4 linked regions of the Homo sapiens genome follow. The protein of the gene in region 1 purifies or fractionates together with the protein of each later gene. This does not show direct contact. Each region holds a gene or a part of one and is shown on either strand. Other genes may lie near its edges.

What was found. Proteins that work in one complex are often made in the same cells at the same time.
Region 2: the proteins of ABITRAM (region 1) and TAOK2 purify together in Homo sapiens (affinity purification with mass spectrometry; 2 studies listed by BioGRID and IntAct, with this or other methods). This does not show direct contact.
Region 3: the proteins of ABITRAM (region 1) and TAOK1 purify together in Homo sapiens (affinity purification with mass spectrometry; 2 studies listed by BioGRID and IntAct, with this or other methods). This does not show direct contact.
Region 4: the proteins of ABITRAM (region 1) and POTEF purify together in Homo sapiens (affinity purification with mass spectrometry; 2 studies listed by BioGRID and IntAct, with this or other methods). This does not show direct contact.

What each region holds. Positions count from the first base shown.
Region 1 is NC_000009.12:108,937,392-108,941,454, reverse strand, and holds the end of ABITRAM (protein Abitram), read right to left. Parts: intron 2,260-4,063; coding exon 2,183-2,259; intron 2,071-2,182; coding exon 2,001-2,070; intron 1,907-2,000; coding exon 1,769-1,906; 3' UTR 501-1,768; downstream 1-500. UniProt on the Homo sapiens protein: Actin-binding protein that regulates actin polymerization, filopodia dynamics and increases the branching of proximal dendrites of developing neurons.
Region 2 is NC_000016.10:29,976,862-29,980,369, reverse strand, and holds part of TAOK2 (serine/threonine-protein kinase TAO2), read right to left. Parts: intron 2,633-3,508; 5' UTR 2,598-2,632; coding exon 2,466-2,597; intron 2,282-2,465; coding exon 2,210-2,281; intron 2,119-2,209; coding exon 2,017-2,118; intron 1,572-2,016; coding exon 1,526-1,571; intron 1,397-1,525; coding exon 1,300-1,396; intron 1,176-1,299; coding exon 1,062-1,175; intron 954-1,061; coding exon 862-953; intron 1-861. UniProt on the Homo sapiens protein: Serine/threonine-protein kinase involved in different processes such as membrane blebbing and apoptotic bodies formation DNA damage response and MAPK14/p38 MAPK stress-activated MAPK cascade.
Region 3 is NC_000017.11:29,508,857-29,512,364, reverse strand, and holds part of TAOK1 (serine/threonine-protein kinase TAO1), read right to left. Parts: intron 1,502-3,508; coding exon 1,373-1,501; intron 1-1,372. UniProt on the Homo sapiens protein: Serine/threonine-protein kinase involved in various processes such as p38/MAPK14 stress-activated MAPK cascade, DNA damage response and regulation of cytoskeleton stability. Phosphorylates MAP2K3, MAP2K6 and MARK2.
Region 4 is NC_000002.12:130,119,221-130,122,728, forward strand, and holds part of POTEF (POTE ankyrin domain family member F), read right to left. Parts: intron 2,079-3,508; exon of another isoform or gene 1,389-2,078; 5' UTR 1,296-1,388; coding exon 775-1,295; intron 1-774.

The sequences.
Region 1 (4,063 bases):
AATTACAATAGAAATAATGGGAGAATGATGTGAGGTAATGTTACATGTAAAATGTTATACACAATTCTTTTACTACGTTTACTGTCATAGTTTTATGACGCCTTCAAGAGTCATTGTGCTACTTAAAGTGAGGATCTGCTGGTTTGTTTATATTTTCAGCTAATAGCACCATCGTGGAGGTGTTTATCCACTTACTACATGTATCATGTCTGGGGGGTATATTTAGGGGGATAGTCATGCTGGCACTCAGATTACAAGTTTTTCCTATGAACCAAAATGTTGTTTTATTTACAAAATAAGTAAGTATTATTTTGTAAATAATTAAAACTTAAAAATTCCAACCCCCACTTGTACTTTCATTAGATAATATTTTTGCATACCTGAAAAAATACTGTTCTCTAGTGAAAGAAAGAGCAAGTGGGGGTTGGGAAGGGGTAACTTATGACTTCAACAGCATAAGAGGATAGATAACCAATGGAATTAATACATCGAATGATTTCTTCTGTATAAAAGTATATTTTATTTAAAAACAGTGATATTGACATGTATGTTATAGCCCTTACAGAAAAATAACACGTTTTATAGTCCTTTTATTTGAAATTCAGTGTAAATCACTCTTAAACTATAAATTCACAGTTGTTGGAGGTTTTTTTTTACTTTAAATGATGTGAAAGCATTTGTTCCATTCAAAGGCCCCTATGCCTTTGAATGACATATTCTCAGTAACTTCTTTGCCAGTAACTAGAGTATGTGAGACTGAGTAACTATAATGTGCATATTTCAAGAATTAGCTTCCCGCTGCATTATAACACATTTCCTAGGAAAGCCTTTGTATTTTTCATAGCCTTTTCACATATCCCTCATTTAAGAAGTCACAGTGTTGCAGTTTTACTTTGTTTCAGAGGGGAAGGCCATCTTGTTGGCATAAGGGGGACAGAAGATATAATATACTCTACACTCCGGCCTCTTCCCTACAACCTAAAAGGGAGAGGAGTTGAGGCAGATGGGCTAGGACTAGGCTTTTTGGTAGGCACATTATAGAAGACTGGGTAAGAAAGGTGGGTTAGGTTTTTTTAAACTTCAAACTGTTAGGAAAACGAGGCAAAAGCAATAACCATACCATATGTTCAAACAGAAGTAGGTTAAAATGTAGTAGTTATCCCTTGGTTTACATAGGGGATTGGTTCCAGGAACTTCCACATATACCCAAATCCATACGTGAGAACTCAAGTCCTGCAGTTGGCCCTTTGGAACCTGAGTATATGAACCTGCTCTATAAGTGGGTTTCGTGTTTGGTTAATGATATATTTTTGACTCGTTTATAGTTGAAAATAGTCCATGCATAAGTGGACCCTTGCAGTTCAAACCTATGTTGCTCAAGGGTCAAATGTATTTACTTCTGGATTATGGGATGATGGGTAAATTATTTTTACTTGGCTACTTAAAACTCTTCTGTATTTTCTAAATCTTCTTCAAAGAGCTTTGTTTGTTTTTAATCAGAAAAACATGCCTTGCATGCCAGTTGTTAGAGAGATGCAAGAGAACAGTGTGAGTACATGGGCAGGCCAGATCTGGCAGGCTGTAGACAAATGGGAACCAAGGCTCATTATGAAGACAGAGAGGGAAAACTAAGTGAAGCACTAGGCCTCCCCTGCATATGGCTGGCTGTTAGGTATGCTTTACATATACTGGTTCTTCTCCTTTAGTACCCTGATGGTTTAGGCCAGGTAACAAGAATCCCACTTTGCTTTTTGTTCCATGTCAATCCTCATGACGTAGCTGTTGTGGCATTAATGCGTTTCACCATGACTTCTTCATATTGTTTTTGTGTCAGTAACCCTTCTGTTATGCTTTTACTTTCTTCAAATTTGGGTAACACAACTGCAATGTAGCCTTCAGTAGATGGCTGGAAAGGAAAGAACATTTAGTACTGTCAAACGATGAAAAAAAAACCAATAAAAGGTATGTGGATGAGATCATATTTTTTCTCTCTCTTTTACCTTTTCTTGAAGAATAGATGGCTTATGGAGGATGTTTTCATTCACTTCCATCAAACGTCCTCTAACACAACTATTAAAAAAATTTAAGATTTCAGCATGTTTACTTAGTTAAAAAAAATTGTTTCTAAGAAAAAAAATTACCTCCCTTTGGTCTCCTAAATGGTGGCTAAAAAGTTACTCACCTAGACACAGTATATTCTTCACCATCTGAGCAGTAAATCTTACAGAGAGGTGCAAGCTCTGTTAGAAACTGTGCCCCCTGTGTAATGAGACGGAAGAAGTAATCAGTTGATGGACATTTCCACTTTCCTTTGAGAAGTAGCCCTTAGGTGTATAACAGGATGTATTCCTGGAACTGGTGTTTTAAATCAGTTACTTCAGTATATAAAAACCATTCATTAATTTCAGAACCTATATGAATATAAGTACCTACTGTGTGCCAGGTGCCATCCTAGGTCTAGGGAAAAAAGCTAAGACACATGATAAATGGGAATTTACAGACTGATAATATATTTTATCAACTGTAAATGAAAAAGCTACATATAACCAGGTATAAAGATTTCAAAAGTGTGGGAAAATCCATCAACAAGAAACAATATAAAATTCAACATGACACAGTATGACAGCAATATTGTATAAAGTTAGTTTCATTAAGATTTCTACCTCATTTTAATATTAGAACTTAATAGATAAAGGAACTTATTTACCAGGGTCAATCACTAAGACTTTTTGAAGAAGGGATATTGTTCTTTCCCCCCCCCCCCTTTGTAATTCCCCAGTGTGTTAGTAAGGGATATTTTTTCTAGTTAAGAAAAACAAAAACAAAAACATGCACTTTGAGGAAAATGTGGAAAACAAAAGTTTTAAGCAGCAAAATAAAAATAATTGACCCATGAGTCAATACTACATTTTGATGTGTATGTATTTGAATGTCATGGCATGGTTATTGTTTCATGTACTCCACTAGATGGATATACCTGGGGAGGCTCTCACAAGTATCTACAGGGAGGCTCATGAGAGCCAGTGCAGGCATGTTTCATGTGTTGCCCTCTTTTCTCCCATGAATTTTTCCTGTAGTGGACATAGGCATTTCAGGTTAAGATGCTATTCTTTATGACCCCTTTATTTACCACTCAAAACATTTTTAGATGGCATTCAGATATTACTATATTGGCTTCACTCCTCCGCACGTGGGTTCTTCATTTTAAAATACTAGAGTCATTGTGACTTTCTGCTTTTGGAAGGAAGGGGAAGGCTTGTGTTAAAAGAGCAGACACAAAAGAGCTAGGTCTGTGCCAAAACAGCAGAAATGTTTTGATGCCTTTTTGTCACCTCCTTTGGGAGAATGATTGGCAGTTCTGAGATCCAGTGAAAACTTACTGTAGTGGGTTCAATATGCAGGTCCCTCTCTGTTCTTCACTTGTAACAGGAGTGTTACTTTTTTTTTTTTTTTTTTTTGAGACAGGGTCTTGTTCTGTCATCCAGGCTGGAGTGCAGTGCTGCCATCATGGCTCACTGCAGCCTTGACTCCTGTGCTCAAGCAATCCTCTTACCTCAGCCTCCTGGGTAACTGGGACTATAGGCACATGCCACCATGCCCAGCTAATTAAAAAAAAATTTTTTTTTTTTGGTAGAAATGAGGTCTTGTTATGTTGCCTAGGTTTGTCACAAATTCCTGGCCTCAAGTGATCTTCCCGCCTCGGCTTCCCAAAGTGCTGGGATTACAGGCATGAGCAACTGTACCTGCCTTAAGTGTTACTATTTTGGACAGAGATTTATCATTGAAACTTCAGAAGTCTTAAGTGTTATTGTAACTTGTAGACTATCGTTTAAGAGAGGTGCATGCTTTTCTAAGTCCACTAGTTTCTTGAGTGAGGAAAAATCAGTAATTGTAAAGCACAATAAATCAGTAATTATTAGGGGACTTCAGGCCTACAAAGGGGGGTTTGAATAAGGGTCTCCTAGAATAGTGAGAGCAATTAGCAGAAACTCTTAGTATGAACTCAGTAAATGAACGACTTAAATCATCCACAGAAACTTTCCCAACCAGTGGGTTTGTTAAG
Region 2 (3,508 bases), on another chromosome or scaffold:
AGACAGACTGGAAGGGAGAAGAGACTGGAGAGATCACTGCAGGAGGCTGTTGATAAGAGAAACTAACAGCAACTCTTAGGCAACTGTTTTGTGCCTGGCATTGTGTTGGAAGCCTTATAAAGGTTACCTACCTCATTAAAGAATTGTTTCAATAGTGCTGGCTGACAGAGATGAGAACCTTGGCATGGCTTCAAGGCCTTAGGAACTCACTTGGACCTAACTCTCTGGCCTTATCCTTCAATATTCTCTGCATTACATGCTAGGTTCCAAATAACTGAAGCTAGTCCCAGTTCCCCAGGCCTGCACTTACCTCTAGGCCTCTCACATGCTGTTCTCTCTGCCTGGAAAGCTCTTCCCTACATTCTGCAAACAGCTATTATTTATCTTGCAGGTTGGCTTCAATATTCTCCTACAAGGAGGCCTTCTTCAGCCCCTAAACTAGGTCAAGTCCCCTGTTTTACATTTGAACCGCTCCTGTAACTTCTCCACACAGCGTTCATCACATTGAAAGAAAACATGCCTGCCTGGTTTCCCTAAATCAAATGTAAGTTCCATGAGGGCAGGATTTTCATTCACTGCTATCCCTCCAGAATCACAGTCCATGGCACAGCACATGGTGGGCACTAAGAAAAGATTCAGAACCAGGGTAGTGGACAGGAAGAGATGAATGCTACAAAATCTCTAGGCCTAAGAGCTGGCAGAATTTGCCAGCTGCCTGTATTGGGCTCCAGGGTAGAGTCACAACGGACAGGAACTTGGAGGCCTGGGATCCCATCCCTAGGAGAAGGGGGTAGTCCGGAGTCTGGGAACTAACAGGAAAGAATGGAAAAGATGATGAGGGAACAGGGAGGATGTTCTTACCCAGCTCGATGCAGGTTATCCCCAAGGACCAGACGTCCACTTTGCCATCGTACTGCCCCTCATCCATGGCCAGGATCACCTCGGGTGCCATCCTAGGAGAATGGTCAGGAGAGAGAGGCAAATCACCCGCCGAGACCCTGTCACTCCTACTCCCAACATCCCTGGGAGGTCTCTCCACTCACCACCACTCACTCACTCACCAGTATGGGGTGCCCACGAAGGAGTTGGCAGGTGCCATGATGGACGCAGAACCAAAGTCCCCTAGCTTCACTAACCCTGGCTCTGACAGCAGGATGTTTCCAGCCTTCACATCCCTGCCAGAGGCAAAGTACAGGGATGAGACATGTGTCTCAAGAAAGCTAGGCAGGGGCAGCCCAGCTAAGTGACAGGTGGTGCAGATAGCACTCCCCTCCCAGGCACTGCCGGTGCTGCTTGTACCTATGGATCATGTTGTGGGAGTGCAGATATGCCAGGCCCTGAAGCGCCCCGTGGGTCACAGCTGCGATCTCTACCTCCTGAAGGGGTTTCTTGTGCACTGGAGAGTGAGGAAGAACATCAACCCGAGGGAGCGCAAGGGTGGGACTGGAATAAACTCCCCTTAACCCTTCCCTATGGCTCCCCTGCTCTTCTCCCTTCTCCACTTATTGGCCTATCAGTCACTTACCTTCTAGAAGGTCAGAAGCTGAGCCCAGGCAATACTCCATTACCAGCTAAGGAAGAGACAAGGGTCAGAGATCAGAGTCTCCTGGGCAGGGACTCAAAACAGAGCTTCCTTGACTGTCCTGTACTCAAGCTATGTCCCCGGGGTGATGACAGGGAGGAAGCGCAACTGGAGACAATGAGGGGGTGGTGGGAGAGTTTCTAGAGTCTGGGCCCAAGACATTCACCACTGCCCATCTGAATCCCTTCAAACTCCCATTCAATCTCCACCTTCTCCAGCCCACAGTGACCTGTCCCACCTGCTAACAGCCTGTGTCACTGAGCCAGGCTTTTGCTCAGTGGGTATGTCTGAGGACTAAAGCGGTCAAAAGAGACTTCCTCCTTCCCAAGATCCCACAACAGCACCACGAACAGGGACCACCTAAGAGACTGGACTACGATAAGGACGGGCATGAATAGGAGTAAAGATCAGGCCAGAATCTGGCACCAGCTCACCCAAGCCGTGTGCTCCCTCAGGTAACAGCCCCGGTACTGAATGGTGTTGGGATGCCGGAGCTTCTGTAAGAACCGCACCTCCTTGATGATGTCTTGCCATTTCTAGGGGGTCAGGGTAGGCAGAGGTTACCCAGCTTGCATCTTGAGACAGGAGTCCCCTGTCCCCAACCTGGCTGTATTGCACCTGGCCCACCTCATTGGACTGCTTCCCACTGTAGGACATCTTCTTGATGGCCACCACCTCACTATTCCGGACATCCCGGGCCTAGAGGACCAGACCAGAAGGTGTTGAAGGCCCCATTGAGAGCCGGGCATGGGAAGACTTGCTGGCCCAGCAAGAGAAGGCAGGAAAGACCAGTGTGATGGAGTAGTGTGCAAGGGCTGTTGGGAAGTCCACAGGGATAGGAAGAGTCCCCATCCCTATTACACCCTCCCAAGACCCAACTCACAAAGTATACGGCTCCAAAGCTGCCATGGCCAATTTCCCGGAGGTCAGAGAAGAGCTTTTCTGGGTCATCCTTGAAGAAGAGCTCAGCCACATCTGGGTCCTTCAGGCTCCCGGCCCGGCCCCCAGCTGGCATGGTGGCCCCTGGGGGCCCTGAGAGTGGGGCCTGGCCTGAGGAATGGAAATGGGACCCTTAGAGATCAAGGATTGAGCCTTCAGGGAGAGGAAGGGACCCATCAAGTTTCTGCCATCTCCTCCCCTCATTCCCTGATGAGGAGGAGGCACTGCTGAGGAAGGGGAGGGGGAGATTAGGAACAACATCAAAGCTCCAAAAAATGAAGTTGCCCTGGCAACCAGATCACGCGGGCTGGGTCCCTGGAGTCCCTAAAACTGCTAGGAAGATTCTGGGAAGCTAAGTATCCTCACCACCCCCTTCAGTGCTCAACAAGTTCTCATTTCCCTATAGCCCCTGTATCTCCCCTCAAGGATAAAACATTCTGCTTCCCAGCCAGCACTCCAGAGCCCCAAGTGTCCTGTCCCATAAGTCCTATACCCCAACTGTTTCCAGGCACCTTTCTGTTCCCCTTGGCGCTGAGGCCCCCTCCTCCCTCAACCTCTCACACCCTGGAAGAGAACAGGAAATGGCCAGGCCGGAGGCGGTGGAAATCCGTCCATTGTTAGAAGTGGGTACTGGCCCAGAGGAGCCCGCAAAGTCACTCTCAAAAAAGTCAGGGGGAGATCTAGAATGGGAAGAATAGGGATATAAATGGCATCTGGCTATGAGGGCCTCTCTGTGCTCTGGGCCACCTTACTTGTCCTGTCCAACTGCATAAGCATCACACACAGGTACAGGACATTTGCAGGGTACAAATAACATTTACTGAGTACCTTACGTGCATTATCTCTATTCAGTCCTCACTACAACCTTATGAAGCAAGTACTATGATTTCCCCTATCTTACAGATAAAGAAACAGGCTCAGCAAGGTTAAGTGCCTTGTCCAAAGCTGGTCCTCCATCACTATGATTTCAGAGCAGCCCTTCGAAAC
Region 3 (3,508 bases), on another chromosome or scaffold:
ACAAGAGCCGGGAGTGGTGGCTAACTCTTGTAATCCCAGCACTTTGGGGGGCCGAGGTGGGTAGATTGTCTGAGGTCAGGAGTTTGAAACCAGCCTGGCTAACATGGTGAAACCCCGTCTCTACTAAAAAAATATATACAAATTAGCCAGGCATGGTGGCACACACCTGTAATCCCAGCTACTCGGGGGGGTTGAGGCAGGAGAATCCTTTCAACCTGGGGGGAGGGGAGGCTGCAGTGAGCCAAGATCACACCACTGCACTCCAGCCTGTATGACAGAGTGAGACTTCCGTCTCAAAAAAAAAGCGGGGGGTAGGGGGGAGGCCGGGCAGCACAAGAAAGGGCAAACAAATATGAAACCCTGTAGCCACAAAGAAATAATCAGCATATTCTACTTAAAAAAAACCTGATAAGCAAATATCTCCCTTATTCTACATTTAAATTGGCATAAAAACAAATTATTATAATCTTCTGATCCAAAAGTAAGACATTATTGTTTACTTTTAAAGTAATAAATGTGATCAGGTGCGGTGGCTTATGCCTATAATCCCAGCACTTTGGGAAGCCGAGGTAGGCGGACTGCTTGAGCCCAGGAGTTTGAGACCAGACTAGGCAACATGGCAAGACCCTGTCTCTACAAAAAATAAATTTAAAAATCAGCCAGGAGTGGTGGTGTGTGCTTGTGTTCCCAGCTACTTGGAAGGCTAAAGCAGGATTGCTTGAGCACGGGAGGTCGAAGCTGCAGTGAGCTATGATTGTGCCACTGCACTCCAGCCCGTGGAACAGAATAAGACTGTCTCAAAAAATACACACAAAAAATAAAAACATAAGGCCAGGCACGATGGCTCATGCCTGTAATCCTAGCACTTTGGGAGGCCGAGGCAGGCGGATCACAAGGTCAGGAGATCGAGACCATCCTGGCTAACATGGTGAAACCCCGTCTCTACTAAAAAAAATACCAAATGTTTGCCGGGTGTGGTGGTGGGCGCCTGTAGTCCCAGCTACTAGGGAGGCTGAGGCAGGAGAATGGTGTGAACCCAGTAGGCAGAGCTTGAAGTGAGCCGAGAGCGCGCCACTGCACTCGAGCCTGGGTGACAGAGCGAGACTCTTTGTCTCAAAAATAAATAAATAAATATAAAATAAAAACATAAAAAAAGTATATTTTCAGGAAATGATTCATTTTAAATCCTACTCAACTAAATGACTCAGTTAAGGGTAACTGATTATAATCAATGTCATCATTTAAACTAATACCCATTTAGTGACCATAAACAACAAAAGATAATTTTATCCTAATGCTTCTATGAGTTGGTCACCATTGGATATAATTAATAAGCAGAAAATTTGCTTGGAAAGTTTTATGACATAAGTACCTCTTTAAGCTGCTCTTTTCGAAGTTTATACTCTCTTTTCTGGGACTCGAGAAAACTATTCAGTTCTTTCTTCTGTTGGGCCTGAATATGTTGCTGAAATTTTTTCTCTTCATTGGACATCACTTTAGCCTATATGAAGTTTAAAAAATGAATCAAATTTAGTTAAGTAGATAAAGTAGTGGTTTAATATACATCATTAAGAATACCTTTTATTTTCTAAGAACAAGAAATCATTAGAAACATTACCAAAATAAAAGACTGAACCAAATTATAAACATGTGCTACTTGGCATCCTTATAATTTGAACTTCATAGAATCAGTAAGATGAAACTCATCTTTGAAATGTTGATCTCTTACAGGGTCAAAAATGTTGTCAACTTTTTATTTCATTTAACAGAAGTATACCTTCCTCCCAACCCTCAATCCCTCAGTAAAACAAAACAAATGCTATATTTTATTTCTGATTCTATATGCAATACATGTTCATTGTAGAATATTTACAAAATACAGAAAAACAAGAAACATCTTACATAATTTTGGCATCCAGAGATAACCAATGTAAACATTTTGGTGCATATCTTTTGCAATTTTTTCTTTTTTTAAAATTATTATTTTTGAGATGGAGTCTTGCTCTGTTACCCTGGCTGCAGTGCAGTGGCACGAGCTCGGCTCACTGCAACCTCCGCTTCCCGGGTTCAAGTGATTCTCCTGCCTCAGCCTCCCAAGTAGCTGTGACTACGGGTGTGTGACACCACGCCTGGCTAATTTTTGTATTTTTAGAAGAGATGGGGTTTTGCCATGTTGGCCAAGCTGGTCTTGAACTCCTGAGCTCAGGTGATCCACCCACCTCGGCCTCCCAAAGTGCTGGGATTACAGGCGTGAGCCACCATGCCCGGCCTCTAATTTTTTCTATAAATGTTCATGTCTCAAACACACACACATACACATACACACATATATTTGCATGTATATAATTAAGTAGGTATTGTGGCTCATACCTGTAATCCCAACACTTTGAGAGGCTGAGGTGGGAGGATCACCTGAGCCCAGGAGTTCAAGACCAGCTGGGTAACAGGGCGAGTGCCTGTCTCAAAAAATATGTTACAGGGTCTCACTCTGTCACCCAGGCTGGAGTGCAGTGGTACAATCATGGCTCATTGCAGCCTCCTCCTGAGCTCAAGTGATCTTCCCACCTCAGCCTCCTGAGTAGCTGGAACTAAAGGCGTATGCCACCCTGCTCAGCTAATTTATTTTTTTTGTGTGTGGAGACAGAGTCTTCCCATGTTGCCCAGGCTGGTCTTGAACTCCTGGGCTCAAGTAATCTTCTCACCTCGGCCTCCCAAAGTGGTGGGATTACAGGTGTGAGCCACTGCACCCATCCTGGTTATATACTTTTAAAACAAATTTGTTACCACATTGCATATCTGCTTCAGGAATTGTTTTCCTAAATATGTTAGTATCGCCTTTTCCCAAGCTATTAAAAATAATATCTATCAAGTGTGGTGGCTCACATCTATAATCCCAGCACTTTGGGAGGCCGAGGCAGGAAGGTCACCTGAGGTCAGGGATTTGAGACCAGCCTGATTAACATGGTGAAACCCCTTTTCTACTAAAATAAAAATAATACAAAAATTAGCCAGGCATGGTAGATGAAAAATTAGCCAGGCATGGTAGATGCACCTGTAGTCTCAGCTACTTGGGAGGCTGAGGCAGGAGAATTGTTTGAACTTGGAGAGCAGAGGTTGCAGTGAGCTGAGATCACACCACTGCACTCCAGCCTGGGCGACAGAGGGAGATTCTGTCTCAAAAAATAATAAAAATAAAATAAAAAATAAAAAAATGAAAATATCCAATGCCCAGAGGATTTTAAATATGTATACATTGTTTCATCAAATTATTTCAAAATCAAGTATGTATTTATACTATAAATTATTTTGTCAGGGTCCCTACTACTATAAGAATGTTCTTTTTTTGTGAAAAGGGAGAAGAGGGTAGCTATGATAAATAATGCCTCACTGCAGACTACCTGGACATATTTTAATGATATTGTGTGAATTTACTGAGAAGTCTACATTCTACTTGACAAACATGGCTATCAAAAAAAGTAAAACAATGGGACACCAAAAACATTAGAAG
Region 4 (3,508 bases), on another chromosome or scaffold:
TGGCACTATCTCGGCTCACTGCAAGCTCCACCTCCCGGGTTCACGCCATTCTCCTGCCTCAGCCTCCTGAGTAGCCGGGACTACAGGCGTCTACCACCGCACCCGGCTAATTTTTTTTATATTTTTTAGTAGAGACAGGGTTTCACCGTGTTAGCCAGGATGGTCTCAATCTCCTGACCTCATGATCCGCCCGCCTCCCAAAGTGCTGGGATTACAGGCGTGAGCCACCGCGCCCAGCCAAAAAGCTCACATCTTAAGAAAATTCAATCTTCCTGTTCAAGCACAGGAACCATCTTCCCATTTCAGTTTCCTTCTAAGGTTCCTCAGTAAAGAACATATTTACATACTGTACATTGATATAAAATCCATACTGGATTTTATTTGAAGAATATTTAGCCCTGAAGTTGATGTGTTATGGGGCTTCGTTCTTAGTTCTCAATATACACTTTTCTATAATGTATAGAACATTGTTTTAAAATCTGTAGATTAAAAATAATCTGCTGCATTGACTTAATTAATTTTGCAAGTTAAATCACTTTAAAACAGTCTATTAGTGTTCTATGAGGGAAATTATGATTGGAAATCAGCTAAAGTTTTGTTTTTGTGTTGCTGTTCATAAAGGGCCCTGTACCCTGACCTCTCTGAGGTTTCCACATCCAGGGTGGTGTGAGGCCTGCGGAGGCGAGAAAGCCAGGTCCCCCTCCTCCCCCGCCAGGAGGGTATGTCCCCATCATCCCCCCACGTCCCACCTCCTCCCAGCCCAGGCCTGGTTACCTCTTTTGCTTGTCCTGCTTGTTCACGTCAGTGTCCCTGAGCATGACGATGAGATCCTTTCTGGGGACTTTACCCCACCAGGCAGCTCTGTGGAGCTTGTCCAGATCTTCTCCACGGACGTGGTACCTGGGCTCCATGAAGGCACTGTCATCGTAGTCTCCCCAAGCGCCCACCTTGCTCTTGCTGCTCCCCCTGCAGCAGGGGAAGCAGTGGCAGCACCACTTGCCCATCTTGTTCCTGAGTGTCTTCATAGCAGAGTCGTCGTGGTCTCCAGAAGCGCCCACGTTGCTCTTGCCACTCCCCCTGCAGCAGGGGAAGCAGTGGCGGCACCACTTGCCCATCTTGCTCCTGAGTGTCTTCATAGCAGAGTCGTCGTGGTCTCCAGAAGTGCCCACGTTGCTCTTGCCGCTCTCCCTGCAGCAGGGGAAGCAACGGCAGCACCACTTGCCCATCTTGCTCCTGAGACCAAATGGCTTCTTCACAGAAGAGGCAGCCGGCATGGAATCAACCTCAACCACCATCTGCTTTTAACAGCCAGGAGAAGCCAGTAGTAGCCAACAGATCGCGTCTACCAACCAGTTTCACCAACTAGCAGGTAACTCCGGGTTTCCAATCTGTTTGAAGAGAAAAGTCAATCCCAGCCAAAACCTGCCAACCCCAGCAGGGGATTCCAGCCCAGCCCACCCCACCCAGGGAAAACCCACACCCACCCGAGGAAAGCCCACGCCCCCCCTGGGCGACCCCACGCCCACCCCAGAAAGGGCCAACCCCCGCCCCCAAGAAAACACCCAGCCCACCCAAGGGAATGCCAAACCCAGCAGAGAAAAGGTCAAGCCCAGCAAAGGAACACGAGAGAGAAAACGTCAATCCAAGCAGGAAACGTCAATCCAAGCTACCAACGCCAAGCCAAGCCAAGAACGCAAAGCCAAGCCAAGCCGCTACAGGCCAGCCAAGCCGTTAAAGCGCGTGCAGCATGCGCGTGCAAGCCATTACAGGCCAGCCAAGCCGTTACGCGCGTGCGGCGTGCGCGTGCAAGCCGTTACAGGCCGGCCAAACCGTTATGCGCGTGCGGCGTGCGCGTGCAAGCCGTTACAAGCCAGCCAAGCTGCTGCCGGGCGTGTGCGCGCGGCGTGCGCGTGCGCGTGCGGCGTGCTTATCTCAGGTGGCGTCAGGGCACGTGGCACAGACACTGGCCGATGCATGCAACGCGCCTGCTTAAGTCTTGGCGCCACGAATGTCACTGACAGCCTTGAGTTCCGGCAAACTTCGTGGGAGTCAGCTGAGCTTTCAAGCCACTGAGAAGCCTCTGGTGAAAAAAAAAAAGCCTCTTAAAGGAGGACTGGGGCTAAGCGTCTGGAACTTGAGGATGCTGACAGCCTCCTTTGAAAAAAGCCCCCAGGACACTCCTGGCGGTGCTGTTGTGCATGGCAGCAGCTGCAGCTGGGAGCTCGGGCTGACGGAGCTGGCTGCAAATGGCCTCAAAATCGCGGAGCACAAGACGCCCACCGAGCCCAGGGCCTGCCTGAGGTGCCTTCAACACCTGCTCCTCTTTGCTCCGCACCCAGAACACGAGGCCATCAGCAAGGGGGCATTTGGGGCCACAGGATTGCAGCCAGCTCCTGCCCCGGTGCAGTGTATACAGTGTATACTGCACAGGTGTTGGGTGCACCAAAATCTCCTGAATCACCTCTAAAGAACTTACTCATATAATCAAACACCACCTTTTCCCCAAAACCCTAGGAAATAAAATGAAGAACTTTTTGTTTATGCATACCACATATTTTTTAACTTTTTTCACAGGTTCATTGAGATACAATTTATATATTATTTAATTCACTCATTTAAAGTATAAAATTCAGTTTTTTAAGTGTATTAACTAGTTAAACAATCACCATGATTTTAGAACATTTTTATGCTCCTTAAAAGAAACTTTGCACCCATTAGCAATCTTTCCCTATTTTCCCCATTCTTCCTTTAAACCTCTCCCAGCCCTAGGCAATCATCCATCTATTACCTAAGAATTTGCCTATTCTGGAAGGATTTGCCTATTCTGGACATTTCATGTAAGTGGAATCATAATAATATAGTTACGTGTGACTTACTACTTTCATTTATCATGTTTTCAATGTTCATCCTTTTTGGAGCATGTATTAATATGTTTTTCTTTTTCATTGCCAAGTAATATTTTATTTTATGGACAGACCACATTTTATTAATCCACTCCAAAATTCATGGACATTTCTGTTGTTTCCTACTTTTTGTTGCTATAAATACTTTTATGTGTAAGGCATTTGTTTTAATTTATTTTTGGTGTATACATAGGAGTGAATTTACTGAGTCATGTGGTAATTCTGTATTTAACCTTTGAAGAACGGCTTCATTTTTCTGCATGTGGCTTGCCAATTATACCAGCAGCATATGTTGAATAGGGTGTCCTTTCCCATTTTCTTGTTTGCTTTGTCAAAGATTAGGTAGTCTGATGCCTCCAGGTTTGTTCTTTTTGCTAAAGATTGCTTTCGTTTTTCAGCATCTTTTGTGGTTCCATTCAGATTTTAGGACTAATTTTTCTATTTCTGTGAAGAATGACATTGGAATTTGACAGCGGTTGCATTTAATCTGTAGAATGCTTTGAGTAGCATTGAAATTTTGACAATATTAATTTTTTCAATTGATATAGGACTTTTTCTATTTGTCACTTTCAATTTCTTTCATCAATGTGCTATAATTTTCAGTA